4 linked regions of the Homo sapiens genome follow. The protein of the gene in region 4 interacts with the protein of the main gene of each other region in a pairwise test. Each region holds a gene or a part of one and is shown on either strand. Other genes may lie near its edges.

Region 1 (7,022 bases), on a different chromosome or scaffold from region 4:
TTTCATTCCTCTATCCCACTAGCTCAATGTCTGTGCTGCCTTATTTCTGGTCTTCTTGTAAACACTGGATTAAAAAGGAGAAGAATGCATTCAGTAGAGGCAAAAGTGCCCCCCAACACCCTACCCATGGTCATACACCTGGTTGTATGGACTCCTGTGTGGTGCCTGCTGTGAGAGGGTAATTGGGAAAGAAAAAGACAAACAGATCCCTGCCCCTTGGAGGTTACAGCCTGGCCATTAAAGGAAGCATTAAAAGTACACAATGCATGATAAGACAGGGGAGTGCAAGGCACCCATATAGCATCCAGCCTGACATGGCGGAAGGGCTCAGAATGTGATCTTTCAGCTGCTAGCTGAAAGGATAAGTGCTAGATTAAGGAAGCAGAAGGATTCTATATAGAAGGCATCACATGTGCTAAACAAATGCCCTGAAGCAGAAAAGAAATGTAGGAAGGGACCTGAAAGAAGGCCCTGAGGCTGGAGCAGAGGGGCTTAGAAGACACCAGGACTTCCAAGGCATCAGAGGAGGCAGAAAAGGTTTGGGTTTTTATCGTAATAGGATCATATGATTTGATAAAATAATATGATTTGATAAAATAATGATTTTATCGTTTGATAAAATGATATGATTAGACAAAATAATGATTTTATCAAATGATTATCTGAGGAGTTTTATACAAAGGAGTGGTCAGATCAGATTGCCATGTATAGAAGACTGCTCTGCTCCCTTTCTGTGGAAAATGAGTAAAAGCTGACAAGACTGGAGATATGCTCAGGTGTGTGCCCAGGTGTAGACATGGGGAAAACAGGATTAGGGCTTTGCTAGGAGGAAACAGCAAAAGGGCTGAAGAGAGAGGGACTCTCGGCTATCAGTAGGAGCTGGGCTCCAAAGATAGGCCATGAAGTAGAGACTCCATGGGGAGGGACAGACACAGGAGCGGCTGGTGGTAAGAGGGAGGATTAAGACGTCAATGGACTGGAGGTCCCAAAAAGGCCAAGGACTGTCGTGGTGGGAGGAGATAAGAGGACAAGCCCAGAGGACAGGATGCCGATGTGCACAAAGACTTCAGAGGTGGGGCCATTTCAGGGTATGATAACATTCAGAATATTAGTCAGTTCTTGTACTGCTGATAAAAGGTGGCTTGACCAAAGGTAGCTATCTATGGGGGAGTGTTAGAGGAAGAAGCTAAAGAAAATAAAAGGGCAGAGCCCAGGTTGCTGAAGAGGCCCACGCCAATCCAGTCTTCAGTTCCTGGAAGAATCAGAGAAACTCAACTAAGCACAGGGTCCTCCAGGATGACAGAATTAGAGGCCCTTCTAGGAGCTCACATCCCTCCAACCTCCCTACCTCCACCACCCTCTTCACCCTAAATGCTTGGCTTGACTAAATAAAAGTGGCCCTCTCTATTCACAGCATTTAGAGGTCCGTGAACTGTTCAGCTTGTCCTCCTAGGGCAAGGCAAAGGTTGGTATCATAAGCATGAGTTATTGATTACAAACCTGGTCTCCAGTCTCATGGTCTCAGTCTTTGCAGCTGAGCTCCATAGAGTGGCTGTCTGCTAGCAAAACACATATGACCACGTATCTTGTCTCTCCACTAGGCTAGAAAGTCAAGGGCAGGCCATTATGCTTCCTTCAGTTTCTAGGACCACACCTCATAGGTAATATCAATAGATACTCAATAAAGAAAGAAGCAATCCTATTTATATAAAGTTCAAAACTGGCGAAACTAATTTAAAGTATTAAAGGTTAAAATAATGGTTATATTCTCATTGGGGAGGGTAACAGAAATGGAGTAGTAATGTTTTATCTCTTGATCTGGGTACTGTTTATATGGATTTGTTCAGTGCAAATTTATTGATCTCTATAATTATAATTTGTATACTTTTCCATATGTATGTTACATTTTGATATATTTTTTAAACATGTGAATGAATCAATCACTTAATCAGTGGTAGAAACTAACTTAGCCTGAACTTGAAATGCTTCCCCCAATATAGGATTCAAACTGCAAGCTAAGGCAGGGGTTGGCAGATATTTTGTATAAGAGCCAGGTATTAAGTGTCTTATGCCTCACAGACTGTAGTGTCTCTGTCAACAACTACTCAACTTTGCTACTATGCTAAAAAAAAAAGTAGCCATCGATACTGCGTAAATGAATGAATATGGCTGCGTTCCAATAAAACATGAACACTGAATTTTCAATTTTATATCATTTTCACAGTCCTCAAATTATATCCTTTTGATTTGTTTTTCAATTATTAAAAAAAAATGCTTAACTCTTCTTAGCTCTCCAGCTATACAAAAACAGGCTGCTGGCCAGATCTGGCCCGTAGGAAGTAGTCTGCCAACTCTTGCACTAACTGAGTATGCACATAAAACACATTTCCTGGCCCGCACACAGGCTCAGCCTGTCTTTCCCCCAATCTGCCCCTCTGTGCTCTCCCACCTTTATAAGTAGGCAAACACTCCATCTTGTCGCTACATGGATATTTACTGTCCCGAGGTTTGATGGGGTCCACTCGACAGACAGGGTAGGGATTGTAATCTTTCTTATACGTCGTGAGCAAATCCATATTCTCTTCACTCGGGACGAACTGGTCATACTGGTGGACCTTCACTGGTGCCACTTTGTGAGGCCCAAAATCTCTCCTGTAAGGAAGCAAGTGCATGCTGTTGGGGTCCTTGGCTTGCGATAAGGCTTATGTTTTCTGCTCAACCCAACTCTACAAACATTTGCTGAGAAGTCCTGTTCTACTCTACCTGCCTTCCCTCCTCCCCCGAACTGTTTCTCCTCTATTTCCCACTTTTGAGAAGGGTACCATCAATTCCTTCTCACCCAACTCAGACACCTGTATTCATCTTTGACCTCCTTTCCTCACGGCCCCAGAGTCTATCACCACCAGTGCCCCTCCACCTCATTGGTTTTTCTTTCCCCTTGGTCCAGATCCTGACAATTTCTCACTAACAGCCTGCCACCTGAGCTTCCTCCTTCATTCCTACCACTTCTATTCAATCACCATAATGTGGCCAGAATAAACTCTCTAAATGGAAATCAGATGGCTTTCCCCAGTTTAAAACTCTTCCAGGTAAAATTCAACTTCCTGGCATAATTTATAAGCCTTTCTGGACCTGGCTCCTGCCTGACTCACCCTTGTCTCTCACGATCCCCACCCCACCTGAAAACCCTGCACTCCAACCACAATGCCACCGTTTCTACTGCTGCGCTCTCCACCTTCCTTCCACCCAACCCCTTCACTGCGGAGGTATCTTCCTTTCAGGTGCCGCTGCCACCTTCTCTGTGTTCCCAAAAGCTTCTCCTGCTAATGTTTATCTCTTTCCTCTACTTAGCCTACAGAAAACCCAGAAGAGGAAAACAGTGAAATAACTGGAAACCCTGACTCCTTCATTTCTCTGCTATCTGGTGTCTGCGCCCCCATTGTTTCAGGGAGTACCAAAACAATAGGATCGAAAAAGTATAATGGTCTTCACTAAACAGGAAGCAGTCCCTCCCCAAAGCATCCCAGATAAAAAGGCCCAGATGCTCACTGCAATGCCCACCAGGAACCGCCCTAAGGAGCCAGGGCTTAGCTCGGACTTGTGTTGCCCTCCAGGGCACTCGCAACTTCCCACCTCTCAATGCTAACATTTCCCTCTGAAGGGTGTCTGTTTTACACAACAAACTGTTTTTGCCTGGAACCCATTTATTCAACTGGACAAAGGGAAGGTAGATTTTTCCTGATGGTGCTTGCCAGAACATCCCTGTCAAGGGAAGGGGAAGGTTTCCGGACAGGAAAACGTTAGGCCCAAACACCAATAAAACCCACTTCCTGGCCAAAATCTGGAGCAGCATTACTCAGCCATGCTTGACTAGCAAAGGTAACACGCTCCACTGTAACCTGTCTTGCGTGAATTATACACATGATTGTCAGTAAACCCGAACCGGGTCCTGAAAATGCTTAGTGGGATGGGAGAAGGAAGTTAGGAAGCAGGAGAATTAGTCTCTCTAGGGCTCTAAGGAGGAAATGGGAGATGCTTCAGTTGAACTCCCCTAACACCCTCTGGGTAGATTTAAAAATATATCTTAGCGGCAGTTATAGGACATTCAGCCTGGGCTCCCTTCCTAGGGGCCCTGCTGTTAGCCTGAAGTGTCTGGAAGCTGACTGTACATATCGGGGCTTATGGAGGGAATGGACTGAACAAGCAGCCAAGGGTCAGCTCCTACTTCTGCTGTTCTCAGTGAGCAAGTACTACACCCTGGTGTCTATTCAGCACTAAACCAATTGTAGCAGGGAACTAAGAGGGTAAGTCCTTAGGCTACAAAGACAAATGAAAATGCCCAGAAAACTCCATCTGAAAACCAGCTGAGTGGAAAGGGACTCTTGGTCAGAAAGTGTACATTCTAAAGGGAGTGCTCCCAAGGGAAGTTGAGCTCTCCTCACTCTCAGAAGGGATGGACAGGTTTCAAGGCAGCCTGAGACCACACATTCCTAAACCCTTATAAAAGCCTGTGCTCAGTGATGGCTACCTAAGCCTACACCCTATTCATTTCCAAGGAGTATCAGGAGGTACCAAGGGCATGCAGTGAGGAACAAAGCTGGGCGCCTGAGCTGCCGTGCTGAGCCCACCCAACCTCAGAGCATCTAGGGATGCTTTCCAGTTGTGAGGCTGCCACTCTCAGGGACCCTGCACACAGAGTCCATAGCAGCCTCTTCTGCAGTTACTCTGACCAAGAGGACCAGCTTCCTCTCAGGGATGCCGCAGAAACCTCCCTTCAAAGGCTGCCAGACTCTTGAAAACTAAAGCACGCTTATTGCGCATCTCCCACGGCTTCTACCGGAAAAGAGCAGACAAAAGCCCAAAACCAAATTCACCAGTTCACAGACTATTCTGAAATTGGTTTCCCAAAGACAAAAGCCAATCGCCTTTTCCAGTATAAAATTTAAGTTCCTTTGTAAGTGTTCCTCTATGGTTTAATTTATTGATCAGCCATAACTAAGGCAAATGATTATGGGGGGTGGGGGGAAGCGGTATCTACTTCTGAAGAGAAGAAAAATTTTAAAGTTTGACTTTTTTATAACCTACCCAAACATAGTTACTGTGGCTTAGGAGTGAATTTAATCAGAATTTATGTGTTTCCTCATTATGTTTTTATGTTGAGAACATTCACTGAAACCTGTCATTAACCGCAACATAACTGCATGTCCCCAATCACACATAATCTTACAGCCTTTAAATTCACGTAAAAGAAAAGTCTATATTTTAGTCTCCCCAGAATTGCTCCAATTAACTAGCTTTTCTTTTTAAGAACACTGGATCTCCCCTCTCTTTCTGTGGTACATTTCCCAGTCTCTGTGCACATGTGACATGAACCAAGAAAAAGAAACTGGTCAGAGAAGTAAGTTTCTTTTAGGTAAGTAGCTATAAAAGTTATAGAGTAGGGAAGGCCAAGAGTTAAACTCAGAGTTAAGTAAAAAGTTGGAGTGGTCCTGCTGGGGAAGTCATAACAACTTGACTTCAAATCATTTAGCAAAGCTGAAGAAAGGTGTTTGACAACTCTCTGACAAAAGGAAAGAGGAAATAACGTAACAGTGAGCTAGGGTCCTGAGCCTGGCAGTGGGAAATGAAGATTTTCACCATGACAAAGGGCCATGCAACACTTTTTTTAAACCTGTTTTTAATGTTTATTTATGCAAACTTGAAGATATATTAGTGTGTCCAAGTAATCAATTATATTAAAATGGAATCCATCTTAAAAGGAGTTCCTCCTCTTGGCCAAAGCCAACCTCTCTCACCCCTGCCCTCTTTCTCGGGAATCTCATCTGCAGACCATCTCCTAGGCCATGCTTTTCTCTCTTCCTCCCTACTGCCTCCTTTCTCCATTGAGTGTTACCTCCCATCTTTAAAGGTAAAGAGTAAAACAAGACACTATCCTCACTGAGCTCCATTCTCCTCCAGTTTTCCCTTCTGTCTTCCAGAAAGTGTTGTCTACAAGTACAGACTTGCCTTCCTCTCCTCATGTCCCACCCATCAGATCTGATTCCCCTCACTCCTGGATACTCCAAGCATCACCTTGTTTTCCAGACCCAACCGCTGCTTCTCAACCTTATCCCACTGTGGTTGTTCATAGCATCCATCCTCTCACTCAATTTTTCAATACTCTCTCCCTTGACTTCCGTGATACCACTCCTCATGATCTTTTCTCCATGTCTTCTATGGGGTTCTGCTCTTTGTCAGTTGATTTGATTGACTTTGTCACTTCTATATGCTATTCTCAAACTTCCCAATGTCAAAAGGCACCCTTCTAGAGAAACTATTCTCCCATCCTAGGCAGCTTGGGGAGTCCATCCCATTGTGCTGCAAAAGATCCTTGGCTGAATCACAGGGTTTGATTCATGCCCCTGGTCCTTATGGGACACAGAGTCCTCCTTACCTTCACTATAACAGATGGGATTCCAAGCCCATGCACTCCAGAATCCAAGTTACATAGCACCTGTCTTCTCCTCTGCCCTCTGAGTCCCTCAACTCCCACTAAGGCTGAGGCAAATATCTGTCACCACTTCATATAAACCCTAGGCAAACTATTTCAAATGACTTTAAAGCTCTAAAAAGGTAGATTCTGGGGAGAGCCAACAGGTGGAAGCAGAAAATGGCACTGTGTGAGGCTTCATTGCTTAATTTTCCATTAACTATTTAAGATTCAAAGCTTCCAGCCTGAAGGTCAGCTCCAGTCTGTGCAAGGGAGGGCAGCTAAAAGGCAGATCTTTTAGGTAATCACCTTTTCTTGACTACAAAAACCAGAAGGCTGGCCGGGCACGGTGGCCCATGCTTGTAATCCCAGCACTTTGGGAGGCCAAGGCAGGCGGATCACCAGATGTCAGGAGTATGAGACCAGCCTGACCAACATGGAGAAACCCCATCTCTACTAAAAATACAAAATTAGCTGGATGTGGTGGGACACACCTGTAATCCTAACTACTCGGGAGGCTGAGGCAGGAGAATCGCTTGAACTCGGGAGGAGG
Region 2 (7,022 bases), about 21 Mb from region 4:
GCATGGAGGGTCTTGCCCAGCATCTTTTAAAAGCTCCTCAGGTGGTTCATTATCAAAGAGCAACAGCTCAGATTTCTTGAACACTCGCTGCTAGGCAAACACTAAACTCAGTCATTTACGTGCACTCTCACCACATTTCCTCACTGAAGCCTTGTCACCACCCCAGAGGAAGCAGGCACCACTTCCTGACTGGTTCTGAAGCATGACCCTGGTTAAGAACCACTGCCTGGCATAGAGCAAGCATTCCAAACACGTCTGCTGAGTGAATGGATACAGAATCTGGGTAATTCTCAATGCAGGAAAATGAGGAGTTGTTTCGAGGATTAAAAAAAAACACATGGGTTAGTGAATTAAATTCTTGGATTATAAAAAACAGAGGCAAACAGAAAAACGATGGCATTAACAGCCAAATCTAAGGCTGGTTCCTCTTAAGCACCAGCCAAATAGAAAAACCTCTGATAAATCGAGTAAGAAGAAATTTTTAAAAGATGAACTTAAAGATAGGAGGATAAGGCTGGGCACAGTGGCTCATGCCTGTAATCCCAGCACTTTGGGAGGCCGAGGCGGGCGAATCACCTGAGGTCGGGAGTTCGAGACCAGCCTGACCAACATGGAGAAACCCCATCTCTACTAAAAATACAAAATTAGCCGGGTGTGGAGGTGCATGCCTGTAATCCCAGCTACTCAGGAGGCTGAGGCAGGAGAATTGCTTGAACCTGGGAAGCGGAGGTAGCGGTGAGCCGAGATTGCGCCATTGCACTCCAGCCTGGGCAATAAGAGCGAAACTCCGTCTCAATAAAAAAAAAAAAAAAAAAAAAAAAAAAAAAGGAGGATAAACAGAACAGTGAAATATACACACTAGTGTGTTAAGAAATGCAAAAAATCTTAACAAAAAACTTTTAAATTCTAAACTACCAATGTTTACACAAAAAAGCAGAAACCTTTATAATTGAGGAGGAAATAGAGAAAATTGTTGCCAAAACATCTTGTCTATAAAAATCCTGAGTCTAAATGTTTTATAGGTAAATTCTTTCAAAAGACAGAAAAAGGTGAAAAGCAATCTGAATGTTTCTACAAATTAAGGATAAGCATGACACCAAAACCCATCCAAGAGAGTGCTTTCTCTCTGGTGGCTATTTCCCTTAGTAATACAGATATTAAAAAATGATCAACTGGGCCGGACACGGTGGCTCACACCTGTAATCCCAGCACTTTGGGAGGCTGAGGCAGGTGGATCACTTGAGGTCAGAAGTTCGAGACCAGCCTGACCGACATGGTGAAACTCCATCTCTACTAAAAAATCAAAACTAGCCAGACATGGTGGTACACGCCTGTAATCCCAGCTACTTGGAAGACTGAGGCAGGAGAATCGCTTGAACCCAGGAGGCAGAGGTTGCAGTGAGCTGAGATTGCCCTCTAGCCTGGGCAACAAGAGCAAAACTCTGTCTCAAAAAAAAAAAAAAAAGAGAGATCAACTGTATTTTGAAAAACTTATGTATTACAACCAAGTGGAATTTTATCCCAGCATTATGTATAATAGTAAAAATTTCAGAAACAACCTAAATGTTCTCTGAGAAATGGCTAAATAAATTTTGGTACATTCATACAAAGCAATATAATATAGTCATTAAAACTGATTTTAAACAACAACAAAAATAATCCTCATAAAATTTATATGAAATTTAAAATACATTGTAATTAAAAATGTTTAAGGGGAAAAATATGCATAAGGAGAAAAGAAAATTCACCAAAACAAATACAGAGGTCCTAAGGAAGAGGGATCATAAATGACTTTTTTCTATTAAAAAGTCTAGATTATTAAGCAAGTAATACCCAGAATATATAGAGAACTCCTAAAAATCCAACAAAAAACAATTCAAAAATGTGCCAGGAACTTGAATAAACATTTCTCCAAAGAAGATACACAAAGATGTTCAAGAACACTAATTATTAGAGAAATGCAAATCAAAACTACAATGAGATATCACCTCACACTGGTTAGGATGGCTACTATCAAGATAAAACAGAAAATAACAAGGGTTGGGGGGATGTGGATAAATTAGAACCCTTTGTGCACTGTTAAGAATGTAAAAAGATACAGCTGCTATGGAAACAGTATGGTGGTTCCGGAAAAAAATTACCGTATGACCCCGCAATTTCTCTCTGGGTATATAACCAAAAGAATTTAAAGTCAGGTCTCAAAGAGATATCTGTACCCCCACGTTCAATAGTTCAATGCCTCATGTTCATGTTCAGTGCCATAGCAGCATTATTCACAATAGCTAAACATGTAAACAAAGCAAGTGTCTATCAATGGATGAATGGATAAGCAAAATGGAATTGTATTTAGCCTTAGAAAGGCTTTTATTTTAAAGCACTGTATTCAGCCTTTAAAAGAAAGTTCTGATATATGCTACGACTTAGATGAATCTTGAAGACATTATAATAAGTGAAATAAGCCAGCCACAAAAAGATATACTGTGTGATTTTGGCCAGACGTGGTGGCTCACGCCTCTAATCCCAGCACTTTGGGAGGCTGAGGTGGGCAGATCACTTGAGGTCTGGAGTTCGAGACCAGCCTGGCCAACATGATGAATCCCTGGCTCTACTAAAAACACAAAAATTAGCTGGGCGTGGTGGCGCATGCCTGTAGTCCCAGTTCTCAGGAGGCTGAGACAGAACCGCCTGAACCCAGGAGGCTGAGGATGCAGTGAGCCGAGATTGCACCACTCACTCCAGCCTGGGTGACAGAGCAAGAATCCGTCTTAATAAAAAACAAAACAAAACAAAACATACTGTTTGATTCCACTTATATGAGATAGAGTAGTTAAAATCATAGAGATAGAAAGCAGAATGGTAGTTGCACGGGCTGAAAGAAGAAAGAATGAAAAGTTATTGTTTAATGGATTGTAGAGTTTTCAGTTTTACAAGATGAAGAATTTTGAAGATGGGTAGTGGTGATGGCTGCATTACATATGAATGTATTTAATACCACTGAACTGTACACTTAAGATTGTCTTATGTGTATTTTATCAAAATTTATAAAAACTGACAAAGATTATATCAAAGGTAAAAAGTCTCTAATATTATATATGCTCACATACTTTAATAAAATATACTTTGTTTTGAGTCAGAGTCTTGCTGTGTCGCCCAGGCTGGAGTGCAATGGTGCAATCTCAGCTCACTGCAACCTCCACCTCCCGGGCTCAAGCAATTCTCATGTCTCAGCCTCCCAAGTAGCTGGGATTACAGGCGTGTGCCTCCACACCTGGCTAATTTTTGTATTTTTAGTAGAGATGGGGTTTCACTATGTGGCCCAGGTTGGTTTCGAACTCCTGGGCTCATGCAATTCGCCTGTCTCGGCCTCCCAAAGTGCTGGGATTACAGGTGTGAGCCACTGTACCCGGCCATAAGATATACTTTAACAAAAGTAATACAACACGGAAAAGTAAGGAAAAGAATCTTATTTTTGAAACAGTTATTTTTTGAGACGGAGTCTCGCTCAGTCACCTAGGTTGGAGTGCAGTGGCGTGATCTCTGCTCACTAAAAGCTCCGCCTCCCAGGTTCATGCCATTCTTCTGCCTCAGCCTCCCGAGTAGCTGGGACTACAGGCACCGGCCACCATGCCTGGCTAATTTTTTTGTATTTTTATTAGAGACGGGGTTTCACCATGTTAGCCAGGATGGTCTCGATCTCCTGACCTCGTGATCCACCTGCCTCGGCCTCCCAAAGTGCTGGGATTACAGGCGTGAGCCACTGCGCCTGGCTTGAAACAGTTCTTAGAGGAACAGGTTTTGACATCCTAACATCCTAAAGACAAATTTTTTAAAAACTGTTCAGTGCAAATCACATTGTTTCATGTAATCATTTTATCAGAAAATAAAATAGGCTCATTGTGACTGGAAAATATAATTTGTGCTATATTAGTAGCAGAAAGTATAAAATTGCTGCTTGGGCTTAAGTGATTCTGAATGATCATGTTACCTCGTGTTTAGTCTGGGCAAGGGGTTGAAGGGAGGGGTCAAATGGCCTTACTCTGAAAGAGTACAAAACCTGGTACAGAGAAGGCTGGGTAAATGCACCACTCCATTCCATGTAAGAATATTATAATAGGAGTGCATGGGCCGGGCGCGGTGGCTCATGCCTGTAATCCCAGCACTTTGGGCGGCCGAGGCGGGCGGATCATGAGGTCAGGAGATCGAAACCATCCTGGATAACATGACGAAACCCCATCTCTACTAAAAATACAAAAAATTAGCTGGGCATGGTGGCACGTGCCTGTAGTCCCAGCTACTCTGGAGGCTGAGGCGGGAGAATCGCTTGAACCCGGGAGGCGGAGGTTGTAGTGAGCCGAAATCACGCCACTGCACTTCAGCGCAACAGAATGAGACTCCATCTCAAAAAAAAAAAAAAAAAAAAAAAAAAAAAAAAAAAAAGGTGTTCACAGGTGCTATGGGCACACACAGGAGCGGTACCTAACGTTACACGGGAAGGTGCAATCTCAGCTGAGACTTAGAGACCACCTCCTGTCAGCTCAGGCTGAAGCTGAGAAGGGGAACCTCTGGACAGAGGGAGCTCGGACATCCTTGACTACAAACATCCTGACCTGATTCAGCAAGTGGTCTGGTTTCCCCTGGTGGCCCCAGAAGCATCTTGTCTAAGTTTGGGTGACCTAAGCCAGGTTTTGCTGGGTCTGTTCACCCTGATGATCTAACCAGAGCTTCTGTAATCCAGAGTCAACAGAGACCAGGCCCTGACCCCTCCTCCCCATTTCCTCTCTATCAAGGAAATCTCTTCTCTAACATGAAGAGATCTGGTTCTCCATATGAAGCATTTTCCTTATAAAACTTCCCTCATTTCTCTTTTCTGTTTTTTTGTTTGTTTGTTTTGAGATGGGATGTCTCTCTGCTGCCCAGGCTGGAGTGCAGTAGTGCAATCATAGCTCACTGTAGCCTCAAACTCCTGAGCTTAAGTGATCCTCTCACCTCAGCCTCCCAAGTGGCTGGGACTATAGGTGTGTGTGCCACCACACCTAGCTTAAAACTTCTCTCATTTCTTACTGCTCTGGTGGCTTCAACTTTAAGAATGGCAAATGCCTTTTTTGTTTCCTAACTAAAAATGTAGTACACATGTTATGAAAAAGAGGCCAGCCAGTGTGGTGGCTCACACCTGTAATCCCAGCATTTTGGGAGGCCAAGGTGGGTGGATCACTTGAGGTCAGGAGTTCAAGACCAGTCTGGCCAACATAGTGAAACCCCATCTCTAGTAAAAATACAAAAAATTAGCCGGGCGTGGTGGTGCACACCTGTAATCCCAGCTACTTGGGAGGCTGAGGCAGGAGAATTGCTTGAACCTGGGAGGCAGAGGTTGCAGCGAGACAACATTGCACACTGCACACTGATAGAGCAAGACTCTACCTCGAAAAAAAAAAAAAAAAGGGCAGGCCAGACACAGTGGCTCACGCCTATAATCCCAGCACTTTGGGAGGCTGAGACAGGCAGATCATGAGGTCAGGAGATCGAGACCATCCTGGTCAACATGGTGAAACCCTGTCTGTACCAAAAATACAAAAATTAGCTGGGCGTGGTGACACATGCCTGTAATCCCAGCTACTCGGGAGACTGAGGCAGGAAAATAGCTTGAATCAGGGAGGCAGAGGTTGCGGTGAGCCAAGATCACGCCACTGCACTCTAGCCTGGCGACAGAGCAAGACTCTGTCTCAAAAAAAAAAAAAGAAAAAAAGGCAAATAAGGATGTATAATGTTTACATAGACATTGCTACTAACAATCCTATAAATACACAGCTATATCTACGTAAACATTCTAAATGGGTATCCCGGCTCCTCCATCTCTGCTCCTAGTCCCATCCCGCTTCAGGTGGAGCCAGTTCAGGAATTTGTTAACTATGTTCAGGGGAAAGGTCCCACTCATCAAAACACCTCTCTAAAGGAACTATTATCAAATATAATATCAAACTTTTTATCCTAGGATTCATCATTCATGGCAATCTTTTAAAAAATCTATGAAGTTGTATTAGTTCCCTGCCCCAAATCACCAGCTCAAGCTACACTGGCCTCTTTGCTGCTCCTTGAATACACCAGACATACATCTTGCCGCTAGGCTGTTCCCTCTGCCCAGAGCACTCTTCCCCTACACATCTACTCCCTCATCGCCTTCAAGTCTGCTCAGGTGTCACCATCTCAATAAGGATAAGGCTTACCCTGACCACATCATTTTAAATTGCACCCCGACTACAAACCTCCCACCTCCCCACTCAGACCCCCTTACCTTTCTCTACCTTTTTTCCCTCTTGAGATACTACTGCCTTCTAGGATACCATACAATTTATTTATTTACTGAATTCTTCTGTCTGTCCTCTCTAGAATGTAAGCTCCTTGAGAGCAGGGTCCTAATTTTGTTCACTGAAGTTATCCCAACTGCCTAGAAAAGTGCCTGACACATCATAGGGCTCAATGACTACCTGGTGAATGAGTAGATGAATGAATGATGAATGAACGAGTTACAAGGCCAAAAAGAACAAGTCCAAACTCCTTCTATTCTCCTCTACCCACTGCCAGCAGCCCACAGCTGGTGTTACAAAGAAAATGCTTTAATGAACATGCACCGCCATCTTCTTGCCTCCCAACTCCCGATTCACCAAATCAATCAGCTCTACCCTCTCCCTTTTGTTTTTTGGGGTTGGTTTTTTTGAGATGGAGTCTCACTCTGTCACCCAGGCTGGAGTGCAGTGGCAGGATCTCGGTTCACTGCAACCTCCACCTCCCAGGTTCAAGCGATTCTCCTGCCTCAGCCTCCCTAGTAGCTGGGACTACAGGCGCCCGTCACCATGGCTAGCTAATTTTTGTATTTTTAGTGGAAACAGGGTTTCACCATGTTGGCCAGGCTGGTCTCGAACTCCTGACCTCAAGTGATCCGCTTGCCTCCGCCTCCCAAAGTGCTGGGATTACAGTCCCCTTTTGTTTTCACCTGCTTAGACTCTGCTCCTATTCAAAGGTGAAAA
Region 3 (7,452 bases), on a different chromosome or scaffold from region 4:
CTCCCAGGTTCAAGCAATTCTCCTGCCTTAGCCTCCTGAGTAGCTGGGATTACAGGCATGCACCACCATGCCCGGATAATTTTTTGTATTTTTAGTAGAGACGGGGTTTCTCCATGTTGAGGCTGGTCTCGAACTCCTGACCTCAGGTGATCCGCCCGCCTCGGCCTCCCAAAGTGCTGGGATTACAGGCGTGAGCCACCGCGCCCAGCTTTTTTTTCTTTTTTTAAAAACAAACAAACAAACAAACAGAGTTTCGCTCTTGTTGCCCAAACTGGAGTGCAATGGCGTGATCTTGGCTCACTGCAATCTCTGTCTCCCGGGTTCAAGCGATTCCCCTGCCTCAGCCTCCCGAGTAGCTGGGATTATAGGCACATGCCACCATGCCTGGCTAATTTTTTGTATTTTTAGTAGAAACAGAGTTTCACCACATTAGCCAGGCTGGTCTCGGACCCCTGACCTCAGGTGATCCACCTGCCTCAGCCTCCCAAAGTGCTGGGATTATAGGCAAGAGCCACCATGCCCGGCCAACTTTCACTCCTTTCTTTCTTTCTTTCTTTCTTTCTTTCTTTCTTTCTTTCTTTCTTTCTTTCTTTCTTTCTTTCTTTCTTTCTTTCTTTCTCTTTCTTTCTTTCTTTCCTTCCTTCCTTCCTTCCTTCTTTCTTTTCTTTCTTTCTTTCTTGCCTGCTTGCTTTCTTTCCTTCCTTCCTTCCCTCCCTCCCTCCCTCCTTCCTTCCTTCCTTCTTTCTCTCTCTCTTTCTTTCTTTCTTTCCTTCTTTCTTTCTTTCTCTCTTTCTCTCTAGGGTCTCGTCTGTCACCTAGGCTGGAGTACAGTGGCTCGATCATGACTCACTGCAGCCGTGACCTCCTGGGCTTAAGTGATCCTCCCACCTCAGCCTCCTGAGTAGCTGGGACTACAGGCATGCACCACCACACTCAACTAAGTTTTGTATTTTTTGTAGAGATGGGTTTTGCCATTTACCCAGACTGGTCTCAAACTCCTGGGCTCAAGCGATCTGCCAACCTTGGCCTCCTAAAGTGCTGGGATTACAGGCATGAGCCACTGAGCCCAGCCCACTTTTTTTTTTTTTTTTTTTTTTTTTTTTTTGTGAGATGGAGTTTTTCTCCTGTTGCCCAGGCTGGAATGCAATGGTGTGATCTCGGCTCACCACAGTCTCCGCCTCCTGGGTTCAAGCGATTCTCCTGCCTCAGCCTCCTGAGTAGCTGGGATTGCAGGCACGCACCACCATGCCCGGCTAATTTTGTATTTTTAGTAGAGACGGGGTTTCTCCATGTTGGTCAGGCTAGTCTCGAACTCCTGACCTCAAGTGATCTGCCCACCTGGGCCTCCCAACATGCTGCGATTACAGGCATGAGCCACCATGCCCGGCCTCACTTTCTAACGGAATAAATAATTTACTTATTTTAAATAATTTATTGTGCTTACTATTTATTGTCATACTCAGCTAGACTGTCAGCTCCCCAAGGGTAGGGATTTTTGTCTGTTTTTTTCACTGATCTACTCCCAGGGCCCAAAATCTTGTCTACTATATGCTCAACAAATTTTTGTTAAATGAATGACTGTGTCAAACATGGAGAAGTCTCAAAGGAGACAAAAGATGAAGAAGCACCTCAAGAAATACCAATAGGCCCTGTGTGGCTGCAGGGGGATGGGAGTGCTTACCGATGGTGGCAATGATGCTGGTACTGCGAGCAGCCACGGGCTCGGAGTCAATGTCCAGTAGGCAGAGGTGTTCCAGGAAGGTGTCTGCCATAGCAGCTGGCAGCTGCTGCTGCTGGAAGAAGGCAGTGCCCAGCTCCTGGGTCAGTTGGGCCACACTGGCCCGCCGCAGATACCCCGCTGGCCCTGTGGTAGAAGGGGGCTCAGGGACTGCATGTCACCTGCCCTTCCTCCCCATGCCTTCGTCTCTCAGCATACCCTCTGTTCCTTCCCTTCTTATGAGCTGGGCATCATGCATATATTATTTTATTATGTCACAAGGATCCTATAAAGCAGGTACTGTTAAATGTTCTATAATTATCCAATTTTATGGATAAAGAAACAGAGGCTGAGAAACAGGAAATAAATGGTCCAATATTATACAGCTTCTAAGTATGGATCAGCTAGGATTCAAATCTAGGTCTGACTAACTCTAGCCCAAGTTCTTGACCACTCAGTTATACTGACCCCGCACAACCCAGGACCCCCCGACCTGCAGCTACTGATGACCCTCAACCCCACCACCCCTTGATGTCTAGTCCCCAGCAGCCTCACCCTATGCAGACCCAGAATCACCCAGTTCCTGCTCCAAAGGTCTCTGTTTTCTCCCTTCCAACCCCTGGCTACTGGCTGGCTTCCCCACCCCATCCTCTGAGTCTCCCCAGGCTTCTCAAAGCTGCTACAGACACAGAGGTCCCTGTAGCTTGACCCATCCCAGTTCAGAGGAGCCCCCGATTCCAGCCGCACCTTCCATGCCACTGCACACCTCTCTGGGTCTCCCTCTCTGTGGGTCTGCTCCACACTGTTGGGTTGTCAGAGGCATGAGGCCCAGCTGGGCTGGGGATCAGTTCTGCAGACTGGTTAAAGTGTCACCACTGTCTCCTGTTCCATTGGAAGCCCTGTATGCCAGGGGCCAGAGTCCAGGAACCACGGGAGTGCCCCGTGGCTTACATGCTGTGGCTCTGGCCTGCCTATAGGGCCTGGAAAAGACCCAGGCCAGGGTCCATAATTTAACACACGGGAGGCTCTGAAGAACGTACGTTCCTCTCCAAAACCCACCTAGCCAGTGGCTGATGTGGATCATTTATGCCCTCCACCCTGGCTCCTAGTTTTCACCCTCATTTTCCTCCTATGTTCCATGGCTTCTGTCTCCCCTTCTTACCTCCTGGAGCCCCAATCAGGATGGACTTTGCTAAGTCTCTTTGGGACTTAGAGACCCATGACCGAAGCTGCAGGGATGATATGTTCTCCTGGATCGACATGCTTTCAGTGTGGGCCTGGGGCTGCGGGACCATGGAATGAGAGGGAGAGGATGACAAAACTGCTGGTCTTATCTAAGGGAGACAGAGAAGAGAAAAGGGGCACACCCAGTAGGCCACCCTGTCCCCACAGAATCCCTCCCCCAGAACGGCCTGCTCTCTGCCCTCATCTCCTGGCATTTCCTCTCATCCTTTTTTCCTGATAAATTTTCAATCCATTCATACTATCTGGTCATCCACGTGAATAGATATTTTTTTTTTGGCCAGTCATATGGCCCCATTTTCTTTGTACTTTACTGAAGTTAGCTCTAGTGAATCCAGGGAGCAGGGGCTGTAGGGTGGGGCTGGAGCCTGAAGAAAGACAAAAGGGATCACTGTGATAATATGGTGGGGGGAGGGTTACCCAGTTCTGACCACTTTTTTTCTCTGTCTCAACCAAGAAATGCAGAGTGCCTTCACCACTCTGTAACCTGGCCAGCTGCATGTTTTCGCCTACATGTTTGAACCCAAGATGGTACCTTGAACATTCTCAGACACTGATAAACTTGATTAGGTTGTTGCTGGAAACACTGAAAGATCGACTATTTTGCTAAACTTATAGACTCCTACCCCCAGGGAAATTTTCTTTCCTCCCTCCCTTCCTTCCTTTTTTCTTTTTCTTTTTTCTTTTTTTTCTTTTTTTTTTCACAGAGTCTCACTCTGTCGCCCAGGCTGGAGTGCAGTGGCGCAATCTCAGTTCATTGCAACCTCTGCGATCCTCCTGCCTCAGCCTACCGAGTAGCTGGGATTACAGACGTGCACCACCACACCCAGCTAATTTTGTTTTTCTTTTTTCTTTTCTTTTCTTTTTTTTTTTTTTTTTGAGACTGAGTCTGACTCTGTTGCCCAGGTTGGAGTGCAGTGGCGTGATCTTGGCTCACTGCAACTTCTGCCTCCTGGGTTCAAGCGATTATCCTGTCTCAGCCTCCTGAGTAGCTGGGATTACAGGCATGCACCACCACGCCTGGCTAATTTTTGTATTTTTAGTAGAGACGGGGTTTCACCATGTTGGTCAGGCTGGTCTCGAACTCCTGACCTCAGGTGATCTGCCCGCCACAGCTTCCCAAAGTGCTGGGATTACAGGTGTGAGCCACTGTGCCTGGCCTAATTTTTGTATTTTTAGTAAAGATGGGGTTTCACCATGTTGTCCAGGCTGGTCTCCAACTCCTGGCCTCAAGTATCCACCAGCCTCGGCCTCTCAAACTGGTGGGATTACAGGTGTGAGCCATCATGCCCAGCCTTGTTTTCTTTCTTTTTTTTTTAAAGGGTCTCACTCTGTCACCCTGGCTGGAGTGCACTCGTGTGATCATGGCTCACTGTAGCCTTGACTTCCTGGGCTCCAACGATCCTCCCACCTCAGCCTCCCAAGTAGCCAGTACTACAGGTGTGCACCACCATGCCTGGCTACTTTTTAAATTTTTATTTATTAAAAATATTTTTTTCCTTTCTTTCCACAGGTGCTGACTTTTTATTTTTGTAGAGACTGGTGTCACTCTGTTGCCCAGGTTGGTCTTGAACACCTATGCTCAAGTGGTCCTCCTGCCTTGGTCTCCCAAAATGCCAGGATTACAAGTGTGAGCCATAGTACTGGCTTCAAATTTCTTAAACACTCCTATAAACACCATACCCCGAACCCCTCCTTGAGAACATACCTGGGTAGAACACCCTTTGTCCCATTGTCCACAGCAAGGATGTGCAGTAGCTGTTCTGTAGGTAAGTTCCCCTAATGTATGCTTTGGCCTGATTGCCCTGGCATTTAGTGCTTCATTCACTGGAATCCCAACCAGCCCCATCTTGGGATGGTTTGGGGCATCCTTTGTGAGTGCTGCCCTGATGCCACTTTTGGTGTGACACTAGCTGTGGGTTCAGCTGATACTAACTGGTGGGATTCTCTGGAAGGGCTTTGATAGCATCATCATCATCATAGCATTCATTAGTTACCATTTGCCCATTCCCCACTGTCCAATCTTTATCGAGCACCTACGCTGTATCAGGCCCTAAGGACACAGTAGTGAGCAAAACAGACAGGGCCTTTGCCCTCTGTGAGATTTACAGTATAGTGGGGAGACAGACTATCAACAAGTATCAGAGAAATAAATATGTAACTACAAACCTTGCAAGTGCTACTAAGTAGTGGATCAGGGTGCTGGAACACAGAAGCCAGTGGGAGAAGAGAGAGGGTGTATTTTATTTTATTTATTTATTTTTTTGGAAGCGGAGTTTCACTCTTGTCACCTAGGCTGGAGTGCAGTGGCACGATCTCAGCTCACTGCCACCTCTGCCTCCTGGGTTCAAGCAATTCTCATGCCTCAGCTTCCTGAGTAGCTGGGATTACAGGTGCACGCCACCATGCCTGACCTAGAGGATATATTTTAGACAAGATGAGATGGTTGAGGAAGGCCTCTTTGAAGTGATTATTTTGAAGCTGAAATTTGAAGGATGAGAAGGAACCGGTGGGGGCAAATGGAGAAAGGGGTTTTCCATGGCGGCGGGGCGGGGGCAGAAATAATATATGCCAAGGCTCTGAGGAAGAAAAAGCTTGGTGCCAAGGAGACAAAGAGCTGCAATGAGGCTGAGTGCCTGGAGTGCAGGGTCGTGGCCCATAGTGAAGATAGGGGACCTGAGCAGGATCTTGTAATGTGGTGGGTTTACCCAGGGGATGGACATGATCCAACTGATGGTTTAGGTCCCTCCCGCTGCTGGGTAAAGAATAGATGGTAGCCGGGAGCGGTGGCTCACGTCTGTAATCCCAGCACTTTGGGAGGCCAAGGCAGGCGGATCACCTGAGGTCAGGAGTTTGAGACCAGCCTGGCTAACACGGTAAAACCTCGTCTCTACTAAAAACACAAAAAATTAGCCAGGTGTGGTGGTGCGTGCCTGTAATCCCAGCTACTTGGGAGGCTGAGGCAGGAGAATCACTTGAATCCGGGAGGCAGAGGTTGCAGTGAGCCGAGATCATGCCATTGCACACCAGCCTGGGCAACAAGAGCAAAACTGCGTCTCAAAAAAAAAAAAAAAAAAAAAAAAAGAACAGATGGTAGGTACAGGCAGAACTACTGCGGGCTTAGGAAGAATCTAGGTGGTAGGTGATGGACTAGCATGTTGGCAGTGAAGACGAAGAGAGGGGGACGGCTTGGAGATGCATTTTGGAGAAGAGCCAGCAGAGTGGAACGGCAAAACAGCCGTGGAGAGGGCGGCTTCTAGTGTCGAGGAGTCTGGCTTGAGCAGTTGGGTAGATGGTAGCGCCACTAACTGAGACTACGGAAGAAATAGGTTTGAAGTAGGGGGAAATTCAAGCTTTCTGTTTTGACAGGCTAAATTTGAGAAGCCAGTTAATCATTAAAATCCATAGTCAGACAGTTGGAGCTGTTCATCGAGCACACTTCCTGTGTGCTGGAACAGCATTCATGCCTCATGGACACCATCTCCTTTTATCATTGTGACAACCTAGAAAGAAGGTAGGATCAACAGGCTGTTTTACAGATGAGGGAACTGGGCCGTAGCAAGGTGTGTTCCTTTTCCACTCTGCTGTGGGGCCAGGAGGCTGACGGCTTTGCACAGTGGCGTCTGTAGGGTTTGGAGAGTGGCACCCATAGGAGATGAGATGGAGAGGGTGAGGTTGAGCATTTACCTCCCCAGTTGCCATTCTAGGGACCATTCTCTCCCTATCCCTTGGACCTTACAGGGGTAACAAAGCCCACTGTTATTAGATCTGGGGTAATGCACTATCCGTTGTGGTTTACCAACACCCTGCCCATTCCTTTGTATAATCCTGTTATGAAACACCTTCAAATTATCCCATTTAAGAGAATTCTTTATTTCCTGAAGAAACCCTACCGAATACACTTGTCTGATGCAAAAAGTCTTGTCAGGAGTGGAGCTGGGATTCAGGCCCAGATAGTGGAGCTCCAGAGCCCGAGCTGTAACCACTAAGCTCCATGCCTGCCCCTTGGGACTGTTTCAGTGGGTGGGAAAGGGAGAAGTCTCTGACTCTGGAGTTGGAAAAGAAAGAGAGAGATAGTAGAGAGGACTTCCGGAGGGAAATGAGCATGGGGCCTCATCTTTCTGTATATAGAAGACACAACAAATAAAGAGAGACAAAATTTGTACCCACAGAGAATGTGGCAGACTTCAGGGACTGGGGATTCAGGCCTTGTGCTTGTGGTGTTGGCAGAGACATGGGACTTTAAGGATGGTCTGGCATTACTTTGTTTTTGATACAGGGCCTTCCTCTGTAGCCCAGGCTGGAATGCAGTATCATGATCTCTGCTCACTGCAGTCTCAATCTCCTGGGCTCAGGTGATCCTCCCACCTCAACGTCCCAAGGAGTCGGGACTACAGGCACGCACCACAATGCCCAGCTAATTTTTTTTTTTTTTTTTTTGGTATTTTCTGTAGAGATGGAGTTTCACCACGTTGTCCAGGCTGGTGCAGAAC
Region 4 (7,557 bases):
TTGAGACAGAGTCTCAATCTGTCACTCAGGCTGGAGTGCAGTGGTGAGATCTCCACTCACTGCAACCTCTGCCTCCCGGGTTCAACCGATTCTCCTGCCTCAGCCTCCAGAGTAGCTGGGATTACAGGCACATGCCACCATGCCCGGCTAATTATTGTACTTTTTGTAGAGATGAGGTTTCAGCATGTTGGCCAGGCTGGTCTCGAACTCCTGACCTCAAGTGATCTGCCCGCCTCGGCCTCCCACAGTGCTGGGATCACAGGTGTGAGCCACCACGGCCGGCCACCAGGAGACTTTTAGGTGCTGATATGGAGGGGCTGCTGCACGTCGTGGAAGTGAAAACGCAGGATGCAGAACAGGGAACGTAATTTGTGTATTTTTGAAAAAAGAGGAAAAGTGGGCTGGGCACCGTGGCTCACGCCTGTAATCCCAGCACTTTGGGAGGACAAGGCAGGCGGATCACGAGGTCAGGATTTCAAGAGCAGCCTGACCAACATGGTGAAACCCCGTCTCTACTGAAAATACAAAAATTAGCCGGGCGTGGTGGCGGGTGCCTGTAATCCCAGCTACTCAGGAGGCTGAGGCAGGAGAATCGCTTGAACCCAGGAGGTGGAGGTTGCAGTGAGCCGAGATCACGCCACTGCACTCCAGCCTGGGTGACAGAGCGAGACTACATCTCAAAAAAAAAAAAAAAGAAAAAGAAAAAAAAGAAAAAAGAGGAAAAGTGATAGGCTGGTTTGCTCCTGTGAAAATCTCTCTCTGGACAATGTCCAGGGACCTGGCAGCAGCTGGATGGGGCAGGATGGAGGCGCTCCACAGCCTTTTATACCTTCAGGCTTTAAAACATACGAATGTATTACCCAGTTCAAAATTACATGTATATTTTAATCTAATAATGACTGTTCAGGAGGAGCTGAGGAGGGGGCAGAGCCAGGTTGGCCACCCCAGCAGGGTCCCTGCGGTGCTGGTACATCAGCCTTGAATCGGCTGTGGCCCCCACGCCAACCGTCCTCCTCCCTCCGAGGGGACGGGGCACCCACCTGCCCCAGGGTGCACTCCATGCCCCCCAGGAAATCGTCCTCCTGACAGCTGAAGCCGCTGGGCCCATGCGTGTCGTACACCTCAAAGCGCAGCCTCTGCACCTCCTCGAAGTAGTAGTCCACCGTGAAGACCTTGGAGAACACGGGATGCAGGCTGCTCCGGACCACCTCGGTTCTGCCCACCTGCAAGTGCACCTGTGAGCCGACCCCACTCCAGAGGCTTCCACCCCGGGCTCCAGACCTCCATCTCCCCTCTGCCGCTCACCCACGCCCAGGTACCTCAGGAGGACTCATACCCTGGGAAGACCTCCTGCCTGCTCTCTGTCCATGGGACCACAATCCCGAGGGCCACCCTGGGGGTCACCCCTGGCCACCACTGTCTGCTCCACCCTCAGATCACAGATGGGGAAAGTGAGGCTCACAGAGGACGAGAATGACACGCTGAGTCGGGGGCGAGATCAGATTCACACCCTGGGCTGGGCAGCCCTAAAGTGCAGGCCGCTCCCCAGCACCAGCTGAGTGGGGAGGGGGCGTAGGGTACAGGGGGGCCCTCCCTCCTGGCTGGGGTACCATGGGCTCACCAGCCTCTCCCATCCCATGCAGTTCCCTGGTCCAACTGCCCCGTAAGGACAAGACCCAGCTGGGCCAGTAGGCTACTCATTTCAGAATCCTGAAAAATCCTGCACCTCAAACCAAGGGCAAACATGGGCCACCCGTACAGCTCACGCTCTGAGGGTGCGGGCACGAGGCCTCCGTGGGGATGGTGGGCTCGGGATGTGAAGGGTGGGCTCAGGCTGTGAGGGGCGGGCACGGGGCCTCCGGGGGCAGCCGGAACCCTGGGGACAGGCGGTGAGGGCGGGGCAGGCCCTTCACCCTCAAGGTGGATGACCGGAGACGCCACCGGGTGACCGCGTCCCTTCCACCGCCCGAGCAGCCGCCCGGGCCCGCGCTGGAGCCTGGAGAGACCCCTGCGCCGGGGAAAAGCGCTGGCGCCCCGCGCGGACTGGGGTTCGAGTTCCGGCTCCTCCGCCCGCTGCGGCTTCGCGCCATGCGTTTCTCGCCCTTTCGAGGTGAAGCCACGCGTTTCACGCGAGATGGTGACCGAGGAAGCGCCCGTCTGGCGCCGGCCCCGTGCCCCTTCGGACCCCAACCGCGATCACAGCGGGTTCGCTTGAGACCCACGTTGGAGCGGGAGCCCCGGACGCCTGGAGGTCCGCACCCCAGCGCGCGCTCCCTCGCCGGCCTGCTCCCGCCCAGCCTCCCGCCCCCCGTCGGCCGGCGCCCCTCACCCCTCAATCTCCTTGCGCCTCTTGGTCGAGCCCCCTGCCCGCGCCTCATGCCTGGGCGCTTCACTCTGGCCCGGGGCCCCCTCCCCGAACCCTGGGCCGCACCCCTCACTGCGGGGCACCCCCCTCTCTCCTCCGAACCCCGCTCGCCGCCACCTCCTCCAGCCCAGCCTCTCCCCACAGCTCTGGACACCCCACCCCCAGACCTGGTAACCCCCAACCCTGACCCCGAGCTGAGCCCCAGCTCCGGGGGGCCCCGCCTTGCGCCCCACTGGCCTCAGCGCGCCCGCTCTGGTCTCCGCATCCCCAGCTCGGCGCCAGCCCCGGCCCGGTGGCCTCTCGGCCTCCCACGCCCCGGCCCTACCTGCACCCACTGGCCCTGCGCCTGCTGCAGCAACGCCACGCTGGGGTCGGACTTGGTGAGCGGGTCGCGGTCCAGCAGGTGCCGGCAGCTGAGCCGCAGCTCCACCTTCGAGGCGCAGGGCGCGGGCAAACCCCCGGGGGTTGCCGCCGCCCCGCGCTCCGAGCCCGCGCTCATGCTCCCGGCGTTCGGGGGCCCGGCTGGGCGCACTGAGGGGCCGCTGCCCGCGAGTCGGCGCCGCCGCGGCGCCCGGGAAATGGTGGCCGGCCCAGGCGTGGCCGCGCTTCCCTGAACGCCTGCCGGGCGCGGGCGCACGTGGCTCGGGCGGCCGCCGCGCGGGGACTGCAGGGGGTGGGGCGCGGCCGGGGGGCGGGGCCGGGGAGGGGCGCGGCGGGAAATGAGGGCAGGGGGCAGAGGCAGGGGTGCCCCTCGGAGATGCCCGGGAGGAGACAGCTTCTAATTCCCCGGGGACCCCCCCCCCAACTGATAGCTTTGGGGTCAGGTCGGGCGCGCCCTCCCCGGCTGTGCGCATCCCCGGCCCAGGGACCGGCTCCGGGCTGGAGGCTCCGAGCTGCGCGGGGCCTGAGCCCGGGTTCGGACCCAGGCAGACACTAGGGGAGGCAAAAGGGGGACCCCAGCTTGGCACCAGATCCCCGCGCCCTTCCCGGATCTCTAGGATCCCATTTCCAGGCTCCGCTGGTTTCGGGTACTCGCCACCTCCATCAACAAGCATTTAGTGGGCGCCTGTTGTGTGCAGGCGCCGCGCTCGTCTGGGGCTGGAAGGACCGTCCCGGGGGGCCGAGGGCTGAATCGCGGTCTGATTCCGAGGGGTCCGCGGGGCACGGTCCACACCAGTCCCCCGAGGCCGGGGCGGGGCGGGGCAGGCCTGGGTTCCGTGGGGGGTGGGCCCGCTCCGCCCTGAACTCACTCCCCCACCTTCCCCATCACCGGTCCCGGGGGAGGGAGCAGCGGAAGAGGAGGCGTCGGCGGGGACAGAAACCACCTCGCAGTCCACTCTTTTTGCCGATTTCTGCCTAAAAATAGGGCACGGACCTCGCCAAAAGCCACGGGGGTGGGGGGCGAGGGTGAGGGAGACATTAAGACTGAAGAGGCGGGAAGACCGGGCGCCTCCGCTCAGCCTCGGCGATCAGGACTCTAGAAGAAGACCCTGCGGTCAGAGGGGACCGCCGCCGACAGGGCGAGGAGGCTCAGGGCCCCGCCGGCGGGAGGCAGCACAGGCAGCCTCGGCCTGGGAGGAGGAACGCGGCCAGCGGCGTCCCCTCGCGGTCGGACGGCGGGATGGCGCCGGGCGCGGCTGCAGGGCGGGGAGGCCCCACGGGGCTGGCAGGGCCGGGAGAGGCCATGGAGACCGGCTCCTGCCTTCCCGGGAGGTTGGCTAAAGAGGCGAGGAACAGGTCAGGGCGCAGCGAGGCCTGCAGGGCCCCATCTGCTGTCTCCCCGGCCTCTGCGCCTCCTCCCTGAAGCCCGCAGTGGGCAGAGGCCAGTCCCGCTCTCTAGGGACCAGTCTGGGCCTTCCCGGCCCTGTGTCCTCCTCAGCCCAGCCTTCCAGGCTGCCGGGAGGCCACATCCTCGGTCCCCAACCACTTCCATGGGAAAAGGATGCGAAATTCAGGCAAAGGGTGCGGGCGCCCAGGCAGCTCCTGCAGGCCGTGCCTCCCGCTCGGTTCCAGCAGCCCTGGGACAGTTTTCCCCAGACCAAGCTCCGCTTCCTGCCTTGACCTCACCCGAAAGCTCCTCACCACCGCCCTGAGGTTTGCTCGTCTGCAGTGTGGCGTGAGGCCTGAGGTCCACCAGGCTGTCTGAGGGGTACCCGGCTTAAACCTGGAACACCCCAGTTCAGCCCTTGGCTGTCACATAGCGGCACCCTGGCAAAATAACAGATGGCTTCCAAGCAAAGGACGCAGGGAGCCAAGAAAGATCACAGAGTTTGGGAATTTGAGTCTCTGAAGCCCAGGGCGATTTGGGATCTCCAGCCACAGCCCTCGGCCGGCTTGCTGTCTCCTGACTGACAGCCCTGACTGCAGCCTGCTCTAATGGAGAGAAACCACAGAAGGAAAAGCCGATTCCCCTGTGGCACTGGTGTCTGGACGCTGCCTGCCCCTGCTCAGGGATCAGCCCGCAGTAGGCCCAGGTACAATGGAAGGACCCCGCAGGCCATGTGGAGCCATCTTTCCAAGGCTCCCCCTCCCAGCTTTCCCTGCAGGGCCAGACACAGGAAATGAGATCCACACACATACACGCAGGAATAATAACCGTGTTCCTTGTTGAAATATTAGACAATGCAGATAGGGAGTAAAAACAAATTTCCAGACCCCAAAGCAGCCCATCACCTCCCCACATCTAACCCTCCAGGTTTTTTTTTTTATGTGCAAATTTCTTTTAATTGTCAAAAAAAAAAAAAAGGTGCCTAACTCTCAGAGCCCTTCCCACACTTGAGAGGACTCTTCAGTATCTGCACGCCAGGCTCATCACGCGGGCCAGGCCCGGGACCCCACGCCAGGCTCATCACGCGGCCCAGGCCCGGGACCCTGCCTGGCACGGTTGGAGCACCATAGGTGTTGGTGCAGATGGTTTCTGTTCTGTAACCTGCTTTTTTCTTTCTTATTGACAATATTGCATTCAATGGTTAGCCTGGATCCCCTCATCACTGGGTTACCTATGAGACCCTCTGATTAGTGCCGACCCCCACGGCTATCCAGAGGCTTACACATGATCAATTTTAGGAGCAGCAATGACATATCTGTGCCCAAGTGCCCTGTGTGGCTTCCTGGCATCCAGGACTCAGATACTTTTCAGGCCCAAGTGCCTCTGCCTCAGCCTCTCCCACCACCCGACCCCTACCTACCCTGCAAAGCCCAGCCCAGTCTGAACCGCCACCCAACATCCCTCCCTGGGCTCCCGGCCCACACGTCCACAACATCAGTTCCACTGTCCAGGGCTGTGCTGCCCATGACCTCATCCACCCTGGACCAGGAGTCCACCGAGGCCTGAGTTAACACCAGTACAGGTCCCAACACAGAGTCTAAGACAACAAACTCCAGGCGGATGAATGAAGTGCGGATCAGCGAATGAAACGCAGCTCTGGTGGCTGCTCTCTGGTCCTGGATCTGCCTCGAGGGTGTCATCTCCATCAGTCACAGAGTCCCCATCTCCCATTTCAGTAACACTGGCCACGAGGCCAACCGGGAGCAGGGAAACCTGTCCAGGGCCTCCAGAGGTTCCCGGCAGACCCCAGGCCCACTGCTACTGCCTTGAGGCACATCCCCTGGAGCCAGTGCTCTCCCCCACACTCTGACAGCCCTTTGTCCCTGAGCCAGGTCCAGAGTCCATGGCCTCCTCCCTGGCCGTCCTGAGCACACAGCTGGTGTGCTCCAGTGGACCGGTCCGGGGCTCGGTCCCCACCCCTGAATGCAGGGTCCTCGAACCTGCCCTTCATGTGGAGAGATTGTCCCAGAAGTTGCCTCAAAACAAGAAATTGCAGAGGGTGGGGGTTACTAACAGGATTGTTTAACAGGAAACAGCTCTCCACGTGTCCGGATGGGTGCTGCTTTTTTTAATCTGGTTGCAAACCTACCCTCTTCTTTTCTTTCCTCCTAAAGAAAGGTTATTTTATCTTAGAACATCTGCAACCTGTCTGGATCAGATTGTCTTCCTGCAGGATCTGATGCTGATCTTATTTGAGAAATCAACCATGCCCAGAGGCGGCCACGCCGGCTGTTGGCTGAGACAACACACCTGGCCAGTCTCAGTTCCTCGCTGACCTTGTTACAGCCTCAGAGACCTGGGGACTGATTAGGGGGACTTTCTCCTCCACCACACTCAGCACATGCAGGCACGCACGAGCACACGCCACACACGTGTGCCAAATACCGCAGACACGTGCACGTACTCATGGAGAGACAGCCCACACGCAGACACGCCAGGCACCCAAGACACACAAGCGCAGACACAGGCCACCCCAGGGCAACATATGTTCCAACCAGGGGGTCCCCTTCCTCCACTTCCTTCCCCCAACACCGTCTTCTGGGTGTGGATGAGACCCCCTTCTTCGAGACTCCCTTCTCCTCCAGGCGCGTTCTCGCGTGCAGCCCCGGGCCGCCATCCCTCCTGCCCCTTGTCTGCATGCAGCCAGGAGCAGACCATCCCAGCCCCCAGCATCTCTGCCCAGCAGGAGACACCACTGCTGGCGGGAGACATGGCTCAGAGAGGGCGTTGTGGTGGCTGAGACCACACAGCAGGGGTGGAGCTGGAACCCAGAACCCAGCTCAGAAGCCAGCGCTCACACCTTCCTCGGCCCGTCCAGGCCCTGGGGTGGAACTGGAACCCCGCTCAGAACCCAGCCCTCACGCCTTCCTTCGCCCGTCCAGCCCCCGGCGTGGCTTGATGGCTTTGCTGCCCTTGCCCAGAATGTTCCCAGCAGACCCTCAGGAGCACTTACTGTGGAGGGGCCCAGACTTCACAGCCCCTGTGCAGTGAGACCCAGGGGTCAGGGTCCCTGCCCAGGACTGCACGCTGGGGACACCGTCCGGGACTGGCTCTTCCTCACCCCCTTTGGCCCTCCTGAGCCAGGACCCCTCTGTGCTCAGACTCAGGCACCAGCCATCCCAGAGTCCCCAGGACTTGGGCTCCTGGTCCCACTGTCCCCACTCCTGGGTCCTCTCTTCTTTCTGACTGCCAAGCCTGCTGACCAGCAGTGGCCCTGGGCCCCTGGACCACCTCCCCGGCCCCCGGACCGCCTGTACCCACTCACCTCCTCCCGTCCCCGCTCACCTCCTCCCGTCCCCGCTCACCTCCTCCCGTGCCCCGCTCACCTCCTCCCGTGCCCCGCTCACCTCCTCCCGTGCCCGCT

What was found.
Region 1: the proteins of CPNE7 (region 4) and SAXO1 interact in binary tests that used the Homo sapiens proteins (3 or more experiments, as listed by UniProt).
Region 2: the proteins of CPNE7 (region 4) and ZFP90 interact in binary tests that used the Homo sapiens proteins (3 or more experiments, as listed by UniProt).
Region 3: the proteins of CPNE7 (region 4) and PKLR interact in binary tests that used the Homo sapiens proteins (3 or more experiments, as listed by UniProt).

Annotation. Positions count from the first base shown.
Region 1 is NC_000009.12:18,939,188-18,946,209, forward strand, and holds part of SAXO1 (stabilizer of axonemal microtubules 1), read right to left. Parts: intron 2,653-7,022; coding exon 2,450-2,652; intron 1-2,449. UniProt on the Homo sapiens protein: May play a role in the regulation of cilium length. Stabilizes microtubules at low temperature.
Region 2 is NC_000016.10:68,542,280-68,549,301, reverse strand, and holds part of ZFP90 (zinc finger protein 90 homolog), read right to left. Parts: intron 1-7,022.
Region 3 is NC_000001.11:155,298,417-155,305,868, forward strand, and holds the start of PKLR (pyruvate kinase PKLR), read right to left. Parts: upstream 3,023-7,452; 5' UTR 2,980-3,022; coding exon 2,880-2,979; intron 2,537-2,879; exon of another isoform or gene 2,472-2,536; coding exon of another isoform or gene 2,465-2,471; intron 1,865-2,464; coding exon 1,682-1,864; intron 1-1,681. UniProt on the Homo sapiens protein: Pyruvate kinase that catalyzes the conversion of phosphoenolpyruvate to pyruvate with the synthesis of ATP, and which plays a key role in glycolysis.
Region 4 is NC_000016.10:89,571,205-89,578,761, reverse strand, and holds the start of CPNE7 (copine-7), read right to left. Parts: upstream 3,005-7,557; 5' UTR 2,865-3,004; coding exon 2,691-2,864; intron 1,236-2,690; coding exon of another isoform or gene 1,224-1,235; coding exon 1,041-1,223; intron 1-1,040. UniProt on the Homo sapiens protein: Calcium-dependent phospholipid-binding protein that may play a role in calcium-mediated intracellular processes.